Regions from separate parts of the Homo sapiens genome. Here region 2 is linked to region 1. The links come from fine-mapping of genetic effects on gene expression. Tissue or cell type: whole blood. Region 1 holds a variant in brackets; the other region holds the start of a gene. All regions are shown on one strand. Distances are from middle to middle.

Region 1 (8,000 bases):
ATCCAGGACAGAGAACTAGTAACACTCACCAACAAAAAAACCAAACAACCCATTCAAAAATGGACACAGGACGCGAAAAGACATTTCACCAAAGAAGACACAGAAATGGCCAACAAAGCCGGGCACGGCAGCTCACGCCTATAATCCCAGCATTTTGGGAGGCCGAGGTGGGTGGATCACTTGAGGTCGGGAGTTCAAGACTAACCTGGCCAAGATGGTGAAACCCCCAACTCTACTAAAAATACAAAAACTAGCTGGACATGGTGGCGGGTGCCTGTAATCCCAGCTACTCAGGAGGCTGAGACAGGAGAATCATTTGAATCTGGGAGGCGGAGATTGCAGTGAGCCATGATCGTGCCACTGCACTCCAACCTGGGCAACAGACCAAGACTCCAACTCAAAAAAAAAAAAAAAAAAGAAATGGCCAACAGGCACATGAAAAAATGCTCAACATCACTTATCACCAGGGAAATGAGAACCAAAACCACAATGATATGCCACCTCACGCCCATAAGATACTGTCAAAAAACAGAAAACGACAAGAGCTGGAAAGGATGCGGAGACAGTGGCGCTCGTGCACTATTGCAGGGGGTGGAAAATGCTGCAGGCACCATGGGAAATGGCACGGCGGCTCTTTAAACAGAATTATCGGCCAGGTGCAGTGGCTCACGCCTGTAATCCCAACACTTTGGGAGACCGAGGTGGGCAGACTGCTTGAGCCCAGGAGTTCAAGACCAGTCTGGGCAACATGATGAAACCCTGTCTCTACAAAAAGTACAAAAATTAGCTGGGCGTGGTGGCACATGCCTTTAGTCCCAGCTACTTGGGAGGCTGAGACAGGAGAATCGCTTGAGCCCAGGAGATGGAGGCTGCAGTGAGCCGAGATCGTGCCACTGAACTCCAGCCTAAGCGACAGAGCGAGACGCTATCTCAAAAATAAATGAATAAAAATAGAATGATCAATGATCCAGCAATCTCACTTCCGGGTCTACACCCAGAACTGAAGGCAGGGTCTCCAGAGGTCACTGTGCACCCGTGCTCACAGCAGCATCATTCACGACAGCTAAACTGTGGAAGTCACCCGTGTGTCCACTGACAGAAATGGGTAAACAAAATACATCCATACAGCAGCCTGCGGTTCAGTCTTGAGAAGGAAGGAGACTGTGACACAGGCTACGCATGGCTGCGCCTTGAGGACATGGTGCTGAGTGAAATAAGCTGTCACAAAAGGACAGATCCTGTGCGATTCCACTCACAGGAGGCCCCTAGAGTCACCAAAGTCACAGAAACAGAAAGCGGCGGGTGGGTGATGGGGGCTGGGGGAGGCAGAATGGGGAGTGAGTGTTTCATGGAGACAGAGGCTGAGTCTGGGAAGATGAAGAGAGTTCTGGAGATGGGCGGTGATGATGACTGGACAGCAATGCGAATATCGAATACCAGTGAATTGAACCTTTAAATTTTAATGGCTAAGATGGGGACAGGCTCGGTGGCTCACATCTATAATCCCAGCACTTTGGGAGGCCAAGATGGGTAGGTCACTTGAGCCCAGGAGTTCGAGACTAGCCTGGGCAACATGGTAAAACCCCAACTCTACAAAAAGAAAAACTCGGCCAAGTGTGGTGACACACACCTGTAATCCCAGCTACTCGGGAGGCTGAGGCATGAGGACCGCTTGAGCCTGAGAGGCAGAGTAGTAGTAAGCCAAGATTGTACCATGCACTCCAGCCTGGGTGACAGAACAAAACTCCGTCCCCCCTCTGCCAAAAAAAAAAAAAAAAAAGTTAAGATGGCAAAAATAGATGTTATGTGCATTTTACCAGAATAGAAAAAAGATCTGCAGCGCCAAGAATGCCCCATCATGGATGAACCTTGGAAAGGTCAGGCGGGTGAAAGCCACTAGAGGCAAAAGGACAAACATGCAGGATTCCACGGACACCAAACGTCCAGAATCCGCAGGGCCACAGAGACAGAGGCTGAGCGGAGGTGGGGCTGGGGCAGAACAGGGAGTGACCGATGACGGGCACGGGGTTCCCTTTTTGAATATATTTTGGGTTTGTAACTACATAGAGATGATAGTTGTAAGTATACTTTAGAATTTTTTTAAAAATCTATAAAACCAATTCACTCATATAGACACACATAGAATGTGCCAGAAGGTCCTCTGCTGACGGTGAGACAGGCACGTCCAGCCGTCTGAACCAGGCCCACGGTACAGCCGCAGTCCTGCCCTCGTCTGCCTCTGGCGTGCTCCATCCACTGTACACACCTCCCAGTCCGACCCTTCTCACTGACCCTCAGCCTGGGCAGTGCTGCCTGAGGTCAAAAACACCTGTGAACACCCCCACAGGCGCTAAAACCACAGAGCCCCAGGCGGCGGCCACTGGCAACCAGAGCAGGGTGTCCTGTCTGAGATGAGCACCACAGTCAGAGTGAAAGAAAGCACAGGACATCAGGGAGAGCGCCAGCCCCCTAAGCCCTGGTGGCCTGGGACCCCGAGTGGGCAGTGTGTTCTCACACACTCCTGACACTAGCGCCATGAAACCCAACCCACGTCCGGGTGGACATCAGCACACAGGGCAGGGCAGGGCTCCCCACCCCCAGCACCCGCCTCTGACCTCCTCGGCAAAGGCTGCCCCAGAGGCTCTGGCGGAATGTCCCCAACCAGGCTGAGTGGTCCCCGAAGCCGTGGAGCCACCCCTGGTAAACATCTCAAGGACCTACTCACGTGTCCCAGGAGGTCCTTCCTCGGGGCTTGGCCACATTCTCCGCATTCCCCACGGTGACTCGGCTGCCACCCCCATGACACACTCCCCTTCAGAGCTCAGGCCTCTGGACATCCTGTGACCCCCCAACCTCCCCTTCCTCCACTGCAGTGGCCGAGCAAATGCGGGCCTCCCTTCCCTACGCAAGGCCGGCAGGTTGTCCACACGGGCAGAGAGGCAATGCCGAGGTCGTAGACAGAAAGAGCAGACCCCAGGCCCCCAGGCAGGGTTGAGACAAGAGGCAGACATGTCGGAGAAATACGGTGGGC[T/A]TCCCCCGCGCCCAGGGGCTACACTGGCCGCATGTGGATACCTCTGGGAGTGCACAGTCTCAGCACACATGGGACAGAGGAGCACAGTCCTGTCACCAAGTCAAAAAATCACCCAGGTGGCAAATAAACACGGCCCGTGGGTCCCCTCCTATAAAGCAGCAGCATGAGGCTGCAGGGCGCTGTGGAGGGGACAACCATCGTCTCACCCACAGGGAGTATCTGTCCTATTTATGTGTTTATGTATCTATAAAAACGCAGTGAACCGTGCCCTCCCAGGGTGCGTGCTCCAGGGTCCGTGAGGCGTGGGCACCCAGAGGGAGGGTCCCGGGAAAGGTCACCACCAGGGCAGCTGCGTAGGTGATCAGGGCCCTGACGCCCACCGTCTGGCCACCTGCCTCCAAAGCCTCCCCGCCCCCTGCCTCCTCACACTCGCCCTGCGCTGCCAAAACCACCTGGTGGTGTCCGCCTGCCACGGACATACCCCATCTCCTCCTGCCGGCAGGTCCAGCCCCAGACCACCCGCTCCATTCCTGCCAGGGCCCACCTCCGGATGGCTCCTCGGCCTTGCCGGCCACGGTGCAGGGACCCCGGTTGGCTGAGGGCCTGGAACCGGGATGCCACGCCGCCCTCTCCCCGGGCAGATCATGGAAATCCCATGGCTCCTGGGGCCTCCCCTACGCTAAGCGCTGCCAAACCTCTATTCAGCCCCACTTCTCGCTGGAAGCCGAGACTCTCGCCCCCTATGCTAAGCACTGCCAAACCTCTATTCAGCCCCACTTCTCACTGGAAGCCAAGACTCTCGCCCCAACTGCCCACTCACCCTCTTGGCCTGAATCTGCTCCCACCCCCAGTTCCCGCCCAACACAGGGCACTGCCAACACCCAGCATCCAGCCTGAGGCCAGCGAGGTGTGTGCCCTGGCAGCAGGGGTGGGGGAAGCCCTGCCTGAAGGGCACTGAGCCACGTGCCCTGCGCTGGACAGGCAGCGGCCTCGGTCCAGGAGCTCCTGCCCACACAACGAACAAGGCATGGCACGGATGCTGGAGGCCGTGTGGGGTCTGGAGAGTGGGGGTGGAACCCCACCAAGCACAGCCATGGGATGCGCGGCCCGAGAGCAGCGTAGCCACCTGCTCAGGGCCCAACAGTCTCCGGGATGCAGTAGGAAGTGAGGTCAGAAGCTTCCCTCTGAAGCCACAGCCCCCGGGACTCACTCTCCTTCCTCTCCCAACAATGGAGCCAGTGTGGGATGAACGGAGCCCCCACACCAGCTCAGGGGCCAGCAGGGACCAGGAGGAGCAGACGACTGGCCTAGGGGTGGTCGTGAGCTGAGGCAGCCACAAAGGAGCAGTGTCCAGCCTCCCACCTGGCCCCTCCCTCCTAGGGAGACGGCAGGGCACCCCTGGACTTCTCATGCTACCAACCAGCCAAGCGAGTCCCCCGCCATGTGGTGCTGTCAGCCAGAACACGCACAGGCAGCAGCTGCAGTGAAAACCCCACCTGCGGTCACCACGGCTGCTCCTGCCCTGACGCTCCACGAGGGTGAACCTCCGAAAACGGCACCACTGCCACCTCCGTGGCACAACGGATCAACAGTTCAACCCCGTAACATGCGAGACCGGCGTAGGAAACCCCAGTACTCACTGTCTTCTCCCGGACATGGCAGGCCAGGCTGCTCAGGGGTGCTCGGGAAAACTGGACAAGAGAGAGAAAGAGACAGCGTCAAGACCCTGCGGCTGCCACTCAACAGTCTCACGGAGGAAGTCCCGCCTCAGTCAGGCTGAGCACGTGGACTTCACGCAAGGCGCACGTGGCACTGCCAATGAGAGCCCGCTCCTGGGAGACGCAAAACCCCGTGCGTCTACGTAGGCCAGGCTCCGACTTTAAAACCCACGGAAAAACTTAGAGTAAAAGGCAATCAGAGGGACCTGGACAGCAAAGCCATCAGAGGAAGCTACTGATTTGTATTTTTAAACTATATAAAAATGGGAAAGAAATGCAATTACTTTGAACACTGACTTTTAAAAGCACTTTAGATTCCACTTCTTCATACTCAAGACAGAGTTCAAAATTATTTTAACATATATCCTGGGCTTCCACAATAAATTATTAAAATAGGTGCTTAGAAAGTATTAAAACTTGGCTGGACATGATGGCTCACGCCTGCAATCCCAGCACTTTGGGAGGCCGAGATGAGAGGATGGCTTCAGGCCAGGAGTTCAAGACCAGCCTGGCCAACATGACGAAACCCCATCTCTACTTTTTTATGTGTGTGTGTATACACATAAAAGTATTGAAACTTTAAAAAAACAAACATTTTTTGTTTTTTGTTGGTTTTTTTCAGATGGAGTCTCACTCTGTGCCCAGGCTGGAGCTCAGTGGCACAATCTCAGCTCACTGCAACCTCCACCTCTCGGGTTCCAGCAGTTCTCCTGCCTCAGCCTCCCAAGTAGCTGGGATTACAAGTGTACACCACCACGCCCGGCTAATTTTTGTATTTATAGTAGAGATGGGGTTTCACCATGTTGGTCAGGCTGGTCTTGAACTCCTGACCTCAAGTGATCCACCTGCCTCGGCCTCCCAAAGTGCTGGGATTACAAGTGTGTGCCACTGAACCCAGCCCTATTTTTCTTTTATCTAGAAAACAATGTGAATTTTTAAGCCACTGTATCTTTCCACATAGAGAGGCAAAATGTGCTTACTATCACAACCACAATAAAAAGGACTAGATTAGGCACATCTATGAATTTATTTATCTGACACAGGGTTTCGCCCCATCACTCAGGCTAGAGTGCAGTGGAATAATCACAGTTCACTGTAGCCTCTACCTCCTGTGCTCAAGGAATCCTCCCACCTCAGCCTCCCGAGTAACTGGGACTACAGGTGCACCACCACGTCTGAATATCAAAAAAAAAAAAAAAAAAAAAAATTGGGGCCGGGCACCGTGGCTCACGCCTGTAATCCCAACACTTCAGGAAGCTGAGGCAGGCAGATCACCTAAGGTCAGGAGTTTGAGAACAGCCTGGCCAACATGGCGAGACCCCATCTCTACTAAAAATACAAAAATTAGGCCGGGCACCGTGGCTCACGCCTGTAATCCCAGCACTTTGGGAGGCTGAGGCGGGTGGATCACGAGGTCAGGAGATCGAGACCATCTTGGCTAACATGGTGAAACTCCGTCTCTACTAAAAATACAAAACATTAGCCAGGCGTGATGACACATGCCTGTAGTCCCAGCTACTTGGGAGGGTGAGGCAGAAGAATTGCTTGAACCCGGGAGGCGGAGGTTGCATTGAGCTGAGATCGCGTCACTGCACTCCAGCCTGGGCGACAGAGCGAGACTCCAACTAAAAAAAAAAAAAAATTAGCCAAGTGTGGTGGCACATGCCTGTAGTCCCAGCTACTCGGGAGGCTGAGGCAGGACAATCGCTTATATCTGGGAGGTGGAGGTTGCAGTGAACAGAGATAGTGCCACTGCACTCCAGCCTGGGGACAGAGCCAGACTCTGTCTCAAAAAAATAAAACAAGTTTTGGAGAGGGGGGGGTCTCACTATGTTGCCCAGGTTGGTCTTGAACTCCTAGGCTGAAGCGATCCTCCCACCTTGACCTCCCAAAGTGCTGGGATTACAGTTGTGAGCCACCGCACCCGGCCTAGTCTTTAAATTTAGAGCCTCATTGATATAAAGGGCGAAGAAAATTAAGTGTTGTAACCAGGTAGCCCGGTGTCCAGGAGAATGATGGATCTGTCAGAAATCCATGGGTGGTTTCGAGCTTTGGTCCCATCTTGGACTCAATCGTCCATGGCCAGACGCCTGGCAAGGAGCCCAAGCTACGCCAGAAGTGGACACAGAGACAAAGACGTGACCGGCTGGCCACAGCGCTGGAACCACATTCCCAGGCCCCAGACGCCCTGCAGACCCCCAGCAGTACCGGGGAGGAGCCCACGCCCACCTAAAGACAAAGTGGAAATGATCACAATCACATCTCCCATGCGTCAGCTCATCATGGGGCTTTGAACTTAAAGCTGAGGACAGCTGTGAGCCTGGAGCCGGGCCTAGGGAGCACCGGGCAGGTGAGGTGGCTGGTGGGGCTGTCCCCTCTGTCCACATGCGCCGCGGGCCCTACGCTGGCCACTGGAGCCTCTGAGTGGTTTACGGGTTCTTTGTTAAGAGCAGTTTTCATTTGGGTTAATAAAATGTCAAAGAAAAGGCCGGGCGCGGTGGCTCACATCTGTAATCCCAGCACTTTGGGAGGCTGAGGCAGGCAGATCACGAGGTCAGGAGACTGAGACCATCCTGGCTAACACGGTGAAACCCCGTCTCTACAAAAAATACAAAAAATTAGCCGGGCGTGGTGGCGGGCGCCTGTAGTCCCAGCTACTCGGGAGGCTGAGGCAGGAGAATGGCATGAACCCAGGAGGCGGAGCTTGCAGTGAGCTGAGATTGTGCCACTGCACTCCAGCCTGGGCAACAGAGCAAGACTCCGTCTCAAAAAAAAAAAAAAAAAGTCAAAGAAAAAAACCCAAATGGCATTATATTAGACATCCCTAAATTCTCTGGCATCATAGGATTTTAAACCATTTTAAATCCCCCAGCTAGTCGGCAGACACCCACAGCCAGGAACAGCCCCCCAGAGCTGCCCACCACAGACCCCGCCACTAACCATGAATGATGAGGCCTTCATCCCTGCACTGACGGGCCAGGCGGAAAGCCTCTTCCAGCTCCATCTGGGAGGACACCGTGCAAGGGTCACCTGGGTGGGGCAGGAGACGGTGCTGACGTCGCCGAAGGCCCGAGGCAAAGGGGGCTGTGACGAGCCCGCTCAGCACACCAGACAAGGGTCTGGTGGGGGGCAAAGTCCCGATGCTCAGACTGGCCACCTCCTGGCAGGGTCGGGAGGTCCAAGGACGGCCGTCCACACTAGGGAGTCACCTGGCCCCCGGTGCAGCGTCAGAGCCACCCCGGAAGGGAAGT
Region 2 (8,000 bases), 140 kb before region 1:
CAGCTTGGTTTCTGTGACTTGCCTTCCCCAGAGGAGGGGTGCCCTGAGAGGTCTCCACTCCCTGACCGGCTCCTTGGTGCCGCGCACTCTGAGAGGCTTCCCAGGGAACAGAGCACACAGGACCGCCCTCCTGGGTAGACCAATCAGCATCTGAGCTCACAATTTCCCAGCAGGGCAGTGGGGTGGAGAGAGAAGCCTGGGCTGGGCTGGGCTGGGCTGGGCTGGGGAAGCTTCTCCGGGCGGGGGGACGTCAGAGCAGGATCTGGGGCTGATAAAAGCCCGCCCCTGGGTGGGGGCTGAGTGGTGCGGAAGCTGAGCCCGACACGTGGGGATGGAGGACAGGCTGTGGGAGGGTGTGAACCGGATACTGCTTGAAGGGGTGCTGGGGACTTTGAGAGAGGGCGGCTGGCCCTGTCTGGTCGGGGATGCTGGCCCAGACACAGGCCATGGCTGGGATGGGGTTCAGAAACAGGACCGCTGTCTCTCCCGGGCCAGGGCCCTCCCCAGCTGCTCCTGGCTTTCTGGTTCTTGGGGTCAGGGGCAGGCCTGTGCCATGACCCCGCCACTGAGGCTGTGAGGAGGCTGTCGGTGCCCAAGGGCACCAAGGCACACCCCTACTCTTGCACCCCATGTGTGGGCCCGAGCACCTGCTCTGCTGCCCCAAAGATCTGGCGATGTTTCCCAGGCAACTGTCTCTCACAGCCTGTCTGCCTGGCACTCCCGTATCCCATAAATGCCACCACATCTGGCTATGGGTGGGCGTGCCTGCCTGGCATCCACGGGCCAGCAGGTGTGGTGGAGCACAGCCCAGTTCCTGGCTGCGTCAGAAGGCTGCCCGGGCCTTTTGGCTGTCCTTGCCAGCAGGTGAGCACTGCCAGGGCACCGTGTGTGGGTGCTGGGCCATTTAGCCACATGGGAAGGGGTGGAGGCAGCCCAGTGCCTTCAGCATGTGCCCAGGGTGCCTGTCGGCCACAGGTCTCATTTGGAAATTGGGAGGGTGCACGGCCACCGGGCTGCTTAGGCCTGCCAGCCTCAGGGCCCGTCACCGCTGTCTTAGCCTGATTTGCAGGGTGTCAGCGCTGGGCAGAGATGAACATTTGGGTGACTCTGAGGATGCCAGTGGCTGGGACACTTGTTCTTCCGCGGTGGAAGGAGTTGGAGAGGCCTGGCTCCCTGACCTACGGCCAGCCTGGCTTCTGAAACCAGCTCAGTGGGCTGGGGCCTGATTCATCATCCATAAATGTGTCCTTTTTTGCCACAGAGGGTAAGGGGCCTCCTAGCCCACCGGTCTGCAGGTGCGGGAGTAGGAGATGGGTGGCTCTGATGCCCCCACCCACTCGATCACCTTCTGCTCTGCCTGGGATGCAAACTCCCACAGCTGAAACGTTCTTTTGTAAACATGAATTTTGGCTTAGAAAAAACTCATTTCCACTGTGCACGTGTCAGTCCCAACCAGAAATTATTTTCCAATAAAGCAAAACTCCGTCACCACAGCAGCAGATGGCTCCGAAGAAGTGGAGCGTTTTCATCAGGTTCAACTTTGAAACCTCCACCATCACCATCACCAGCACCGCTGTGTCATGCTGATAACTTGAGGACAGGCAGGACAAGGTATGTTTGTTGGAGGTGAACATGCTTCCTTGTCTTGAGAGTCTTGAGTGGCCGGTCCCCTTCCAGGCCCTCGGCTGGCAGGCAGCTGTCGGGAAGCTGTCAGGCGGGAGGGGATTGGGGGTCAGGCTTCCTGACAAGTGGAGGCACCCGCCACGTGCCCAGAGCAGAGGTCACCCCAGTGCCTTTCTCTGTGGACTTATCTCTGGCTGTAGGTCACAGGGGCCTGCCCCACTGCCCCCTCCCCAGTGGTGACATGGGAGGAGGGGAGATTAATCCAGAGCAGCAGATAAACTGGAGGGGAAGAGCCCCCAGGAGGACAACTGTGACACGTTGTGCTGCCTCTGCGTCCCCAAAGCACCAGGCCCAGAGGCCCTGCCTTCTGCCCCATGGCACTGGCCTGGGGCCCTGGCTCCTCTTCCCTGGTGGCCAAGGGTAAATGAGGCCCACTGGGGTGGCTAAGACTCAAGGGGATGGGGGCCCCCCAGCTTCAGTGATGCGGGCTGGAGCCAGGCTCAGCCAGCCCTGAGGTCCCCTGCAGGCCCGTGCCTCCTACCCTTGGGGCACCCGCAGCGAGAGCTTCCCAAGCAGCCTGCGCCAGCCGGGCAGCGCAGGTGTCCCGGGTCTGGGTCACTTGAGACCCCGCCCTGCTTCTGCTCGGCTCTGCCCCTCTTGGGCCCAGTGGCCAGGGCACCTGCATGGGGGAGCCGGGAGGGGCTGGAAGGATGCTGAAGACCCCAGCAAAGCTCTAGTGTTTGGCTTTCCAGGGGTGGGGGCTGGGTCCTCCCGCCCAGAAAGGCCCCTGTTCTGGGGCAGCAGCCACACACAGGTGTCCCTCACATGGTCCTCCAGGACAGGGCAGGGGCCTGAGTTTCCCAGGCTCTGCCCAAGGGACCCAGGCAGGGAAGGAGATGGGTCCCAGGGGGCTCGGAGCCCATCCAGAGGCCGGCCGGTCCCATGGCAGGAGGGCACTGGACCATGTGGGGGCCATAGAGGAGGAGGAGGCAGGAGCCACCCCCGGGTCCAACAGCAGAACCCTGGGGTTGGGAGCCAGAGTGGGGAAGGGAGAGGAAGGAGCAAGAACACCCCCCACCACCCCCAGCACGGCACAGAGAGCTGAGCAAACACTTGTCACCAAGGGCTTTTCTCCTCTGTCTTTTTTTGTTTTTCGAGACAGAGTCTTGCTGTGATGCCCAAGCTGTTGTGCAGTGGTGCGATCTTGGCTCACCACAACCTATGCCTCCTAGGCTCAGGTGGTTTTCGTGCCTCAGCCACCCAAGTAGTTGGGATTAAAGGTGTGCACCACCATGCCCGGCTAATTTTTGTATTTTTAGTAGAGATGGGGTTTCTGCATGTTGGCCAGGCTGGTCTCAAACTCCTGGCCTCAAGTGATCCTCCCGACTTGGCCTCCCAAAGTGCTGGGATTGCAGGCTTGAGCCACCACACCTGGCCTATTTTTTTTTTTTTTTGAGTTGGGGTCTGGAGTGCAGTGGCACGATCTTGCCTCACTGCAGCCCCCACCTACCTGGGCTCAGGTGATCCTCCCACCTTAGCCACCCAAGTAGGTGGGACCACAGGCACATGCCACCATGCCCAGCTAATTTTTTATTTATAGAGACAAGGTCTTGCCATGTTGCCCAGGCTGGTCTCAAACTCCTGGGCTCAAGCAATCTGCCTGCCTGGACCTCCCCAAGTCCTAGAATTGCAGGCATGGGCTGCTGGGCCTGGCCTTTTCTCCTGTCTTGGGAGGCTGGGACCAGTCTTCCTGGAAGTACCCAAGGCCCTCCTGCAGACCATGGTGACATTTCCAGGAAAGACCCAGAAGCTCGGAGCTGAAGCCAGGGCAGCCAGGACTGTCGGGGAGCCCTGGACACTGGCTGTCTGAGAGCGCTTGGTCAGCTGGCACCTGCCATGTGGTGGACGTGGGGCTGCAGAGACCCCACGGCTGGGCTTCTCTCGCCTGAGAGCAGGCCCAGCCACAGGCTACCTCCCACAGGGCCCCCTGAGACCACACGGCCTGCAGCAGCTCCCCCAGGCCCCCTCCCCCTGCCCGGGCAGCACTCAGCGCTGCATCTCCATCTGCTCACTCAAGTCGAAGGGCCTGGGGGTTGGTGCCTCCATCTTGTTCTGCTGGGGGCCTCCAGCATCTAGAGCAGGAAGGTGTGCGGAAGAAAACCACTCATGCAGGGAGAGGGGGACCTCCCAGTCCAGGCCCTGCTGCTGACCCTTTCCCTGAACACCAACCTATGGCCTCCAGGCTGGGGCCCCTTGAAGGACGGTGGGCCACTCGGGTGGCCTGGGTTCAGGGCCGGGCTCCACAGCTGAGTTCTGGAGGGAGGGCACAGACGACTGGGGGCTGGGAGGGGCCAGGTGAGGGGTAGGAACAGCCAGGGAGCCCTGCAGGAGGGGTGCCCAGCATAGCCCCAAAGCTGCTGGGGCTGGGCAGGGCAGAAACTGCCAAGGAGTCCCAGAGCCCTGAGTGGCGTCTGGCGAGGGCCCCTGACCCTGATCTCTGTAGACCCCACTCCTTCCGTGAGGGTGGCAGCCACTCCAGGGCCCAGCAGGGCCAAGGGAGAGGCAAGTGGCCTGGGCCCATGGGGCACTGGGCACAGCCAAGTGTGGCACCAGGGTGCCTGGGCGGCTGCTGCCACCACGTGGCCGACTTTGAGGTCGCAGAGCCCGGGGTCCAGGCAGGAAAGCCCCTCAGCTGCCCCCAGGGCCCTGGCCCAGGCCCCTGAGGCCCAAGTGAGCCACCTGGACTTTGTCACTTCGCCTCTGGTTTCTTGGTTAAGGAGCTTGAGTTCCCCGCCTTTTGTAAAGAAACGGTGGTGGCGACGGCGGATTTCAAGCTTTATTTACTCCTGGAATGGTCCTGGGAGGAGAGGCGGCTCCGCAGAGCCGGAAACGGGGGCGGGAGCTGTTGGGTGCAGCCGGGAGGAGGCAGTGCCGGGGCGGGCCGGGCAGCCATCGGGGTAACGGAGGGGGCTCCGGCCCGGGGGCTGCCCGGACGGGAAAGGGGACACGGGCGGGGCTCCCCCACCTGGGCCCCCCACCCTCACGCCAGGCCCCCCTGTGCGGTGCAGGACGAAGGAACCCTGGCCTCAGTTTCCCTACAGGCTGGGATCAGGGCCCCTGGGGTTCCGACTGTCTCGGAGGGGGGCGGCCTCGCTGCAGAGGTCTGGAGGCGGGGCCGGGGCGGGGGCGGGGCCTGGAGGGGCGGGGGCGGGGCTTGCGCTCACTTCCGCCCGGCGCGGGCTTGGATGGAGGCGGCGCGGAGGCCGCGGCTGGGGTTGAGCCGCCGGAGGCCGCGCCCGGCGGGCGGGTGAGGCCGGGAGCCGGGCGGGGGCGCGGCCGGTTTTCCCGCTCCCACGTGCTTCCCGGCGCCCCCGCGGGCCTCCCGCTCTATTCTCCCCCTGGGGAGGGCTCCCTGCCCCCGGGCCCGGCCCCCACGCCCGTCGCCCCACCCCGCGCCGCCATTCAGCGCCCGCCTTGAGCCCCCACCCCACGCCGAGCTTCCCCCGCGCCGCCCCAGGCCCTCCCGCGCCTCTCCCATCATCGCGTCTCCCCTGAGCACCCCCCATCTAACCCTCTACCTTCCCCAGGCCCTCCGCAATCTCCCCAACCATCGCCTCATCCCGCTGAGGACCCCATATTTCCACCCACCCACCCCGCTCCCCCACCCCCAGTACCCCTCATCTCCGCACTGTCTGCCCCAGCAGCCCTTCCCCCAACCCTGCCGGCCACCTCCCGCACCATCGAATTTCCCTCTAGTACCCCCCATCTCCCCGCTCTCTCTGCCCCAGGCCCTCCCGGGTCTCCCCACCATAGCGTTTCCGCTACTGAGTACCCCCTGTCTGCCCTCTCTGTCTGCCCCAGGCCTTCTGGCGGCCGCCCCTGGTTTCTCCTGGGGGGTGATGAGCGGGAGCGGCTCTGGGCCGAGCTACTGCGCACGGTGAGCCCGGAGCTGATCCTGGATCACGAGGTGCCTTCACTGCCCGCCTTCCCAGGACAGGTGTGCCCACTGGGCCCATCTTAGCGATGAAGGGGTTTCCAGGGCGGGAGCCATCGCTGGGCAAGGCCCAACAACTCTGTGTTGCAGGAGCCCAGGTGCGGCCCGGAGCCCACTGAAGTCTTCACTGTCGGACCCAAGACCTTTTCCTGGACACCCTTTCCGCCGGACCTGTGGGGCCCGGGCCGTTCCTACCGGCTGCTTCACGGGGCAGGAGGGCACCTGGAATCCCCCGCCAGGTCCCTGCCCCAGCGCCCGGCACCTGATCCCTGCAGGGCCCCCAGGGTGGAGCAGCAGCCGTCTGTGGAGGGTGCCGCGGCCCTGCGCAGCTGCCCCATGTGCCAGAAGGAGTTCGCCCCCAGGTGAGTAGGCCACCCCTGCGCCCGGCCCGGTTATCCATCCGTGTTTGGAAACCACAGCCGTTCAGAAGGTCAAGAGGTGGCCGAGCTCAGCGCTGGCTTTTAAAGCCCTGTTTCACACTGGAAAGGTGGCCCAGTGCTGTGGCCTGGCATGTCCAGGTGGCTCTCTGTCACGGGTCTGGGGTCCACCTGCTTGCCGTGCTCTGTGGGCAGGGCAGGCTGGGGGCCCACAGAACAGCACAGAAGGAAGGCTGGGAGCACTGGCCCCGGGTCCACCTGGCCATCCTGGAATCTGGTGGCACCAGCGTCCCCAGGCCCAGAGCACAGGAACACCTTCCCGAGAGTGCGTCATGGGTTTTAAAAATGAAGATCGTCTTTTTTGTCTGGAGATGCTTTTTCTTATTTTTGAAACCCAACGTATATTTTTATGTATTTTTTAAGTAAAGGGGAATGGAACCCAGTTTTGCTAACAAGATAACCCAAACTGCCCAGTGCCTGGCCTTGTGTCTGGCGACCTCTGGGCCCTTGGCCTCCGGAGCAGGTCCTGGGGCTGGGGTGGTGTGAATGATGCTGGTTCGTAACTTTTGGTTGAGTTAATGGGCGGCAGGTTTCAGAGCTTATGGAGACCAGGTCCTTCAGTCATGCCTGATGCCCCTGGTCTTCCAGAAGCAAAAACAGCTCGGGAATGCGAAGGCACCGGAGTCCAAAGTTGGCAGCCAACAACAACAACAACAAAAGAAAAGGCCGGGCACGGTGGCTCACGCCTGTAATCCCAGCCCTTTGAGAGGCTGAGGCAGGTGGGTTGCTGGAGCCCAGGAGTTTGAGACCAGCCTGGGCAACATGGCAAGATCCCATCTTTACATGCCTGGGCGTGGTGGCGCGTGCCTGTGGTCCTAGCTACTCTGGAGGCTGAAGTGGGAGGATTCCCTTGAGCCAGGAATTGGAGGCTGTAGTGAAGTATGATTGCACCACTGCACTCCAGCCTGGGTGACAGAGTAAGACCCTGAATCACGGACAGAGGGTACTGTTGGGAGCCCTGGGGAGAAATCCATGCTCTTGGCTGAAGCTCTGAGATCCTTGTTGCTGTCAGGGTGCTGCCCCCCGCCCCCCGGGGAGGGGCTTTTGTCTTTGCATCGCCTGCTTTTCCAGATAGTCTAAAAAAAGACTTCTGAAGACAAGGACGTTCACGAGGAAAAACTTGCCATTTTGAGCTTTTTAAGCAGTTGCTGAAAGCTTGGCAGACTGCCTCAATTTTTCCTAAGTAGGCGTCAATGAAGTCAGGTCCAGGCCTTGGTGTGTCTGGAATGCTTCAAGCACATTCGAACACTTGATCGTAAGGGAGAGCCGGTACTTTGGAACCGGAACTCACCCGAGGCTGTGGCCACCGCATGGGCAGGCTAGCTGGGGGACAAGCCCCATATCTTTGGGAACAAGGGTTTGCACAGCCACCCTGGGATGCCCTGGGACTCCTGACCGCACAGGACCCCAGCAGGGAGGCCGCCTGGATTGGAGGGTCTGGTCTAACAGCCGGACTTGGTCTTGAACCGTCGCCCTGTCCCGCACAGGCGCCTGCTGAGCCTGGAGCCCTGGCAGAGGCGGGTCTGGGGAGTGGAGCTGCCAGGAGGCCTCCCATTTCTCACAGCCTTGGTGTTCTCCGGGTCACCCAGAGGACCGTCAAATGCTGGATTTGACAAACTATGTAGAATGTTCTTTGTGTCTTTAAGATCTTCTTGTGGTCCTATTTGGACATTTTGTGCATTTTCAGACACCTGCGGGTCACGTGGGTGGATGGGAAGCTGGGCACCTGGTGAGGGGTGAGGATGTTGAGAGCCAGAGCTGCGTTTTGTCTCTGTTGATGTGGCGAGGCCCTGGGTTGGTCACTGGGATTTTTTTTTTTTTTTGAGACGGTGTCTCGCTCTGTCGCCCAGGCTGGAGTGCAGTGGCATGATCTCGGCTCACTGCAACATCTGCCTCCCGGGTTCAAGCGATTCTCCTGCCTCAGTCTCCTGAGTAGCTGGGATTAC

The links. PIP is the estimated chance that this variant, and not a neighbour inherited with it, causes the effect.
Region 2: it holds the start of FAAP20, and the variant in region 1 is fine-mapped to the expression of FAAP20 in whole blood (TOPMed, PIP above 0.99).

Annotation. Positions count from the first base shown.
Region 1 is chr1:2,056,263-2,064,262 of GRCh38, reverse strand. It overlaps PRKCZ (protein kinase C zeta), which reads right to left. Exons shown (of 18, transcript NM_002744.6): 3 at 7,690-7,779; 4 at 4,672-4,722. Among named protein-coding and RNA genes, the nearest start is that of PRKCZ, 9.9 kb to the right of the region's middle. RefSeq lists an enhancer at 865-1,034. The variant T/A (reference allele first, on the strand shown) is at 3,032.
Region 2 is chr1:2,191,618-2,199,617 of GRCh38, reverse strand. It overlaps FAAP20 (FA core complex associated protein 20), which reads left to right and starts at 4,846. Exons shown (of 4, transcript NM_182533.4): 1 at 4,846-4,930; 2 at 5,485-5,620; 3 at 5,708-5,979. The coding sequence starts at 4,869. It overlaps LOC112268219 (a long non-coding RNA gene), which reads right to left. Exons shown (of 1, transcript NR_168005.1): 1 at 7,160-8,000. RefSeq lists enhancers at 1-590, 3,212-3,878 and silencers at 4,512-4,991, 5,002-5,091.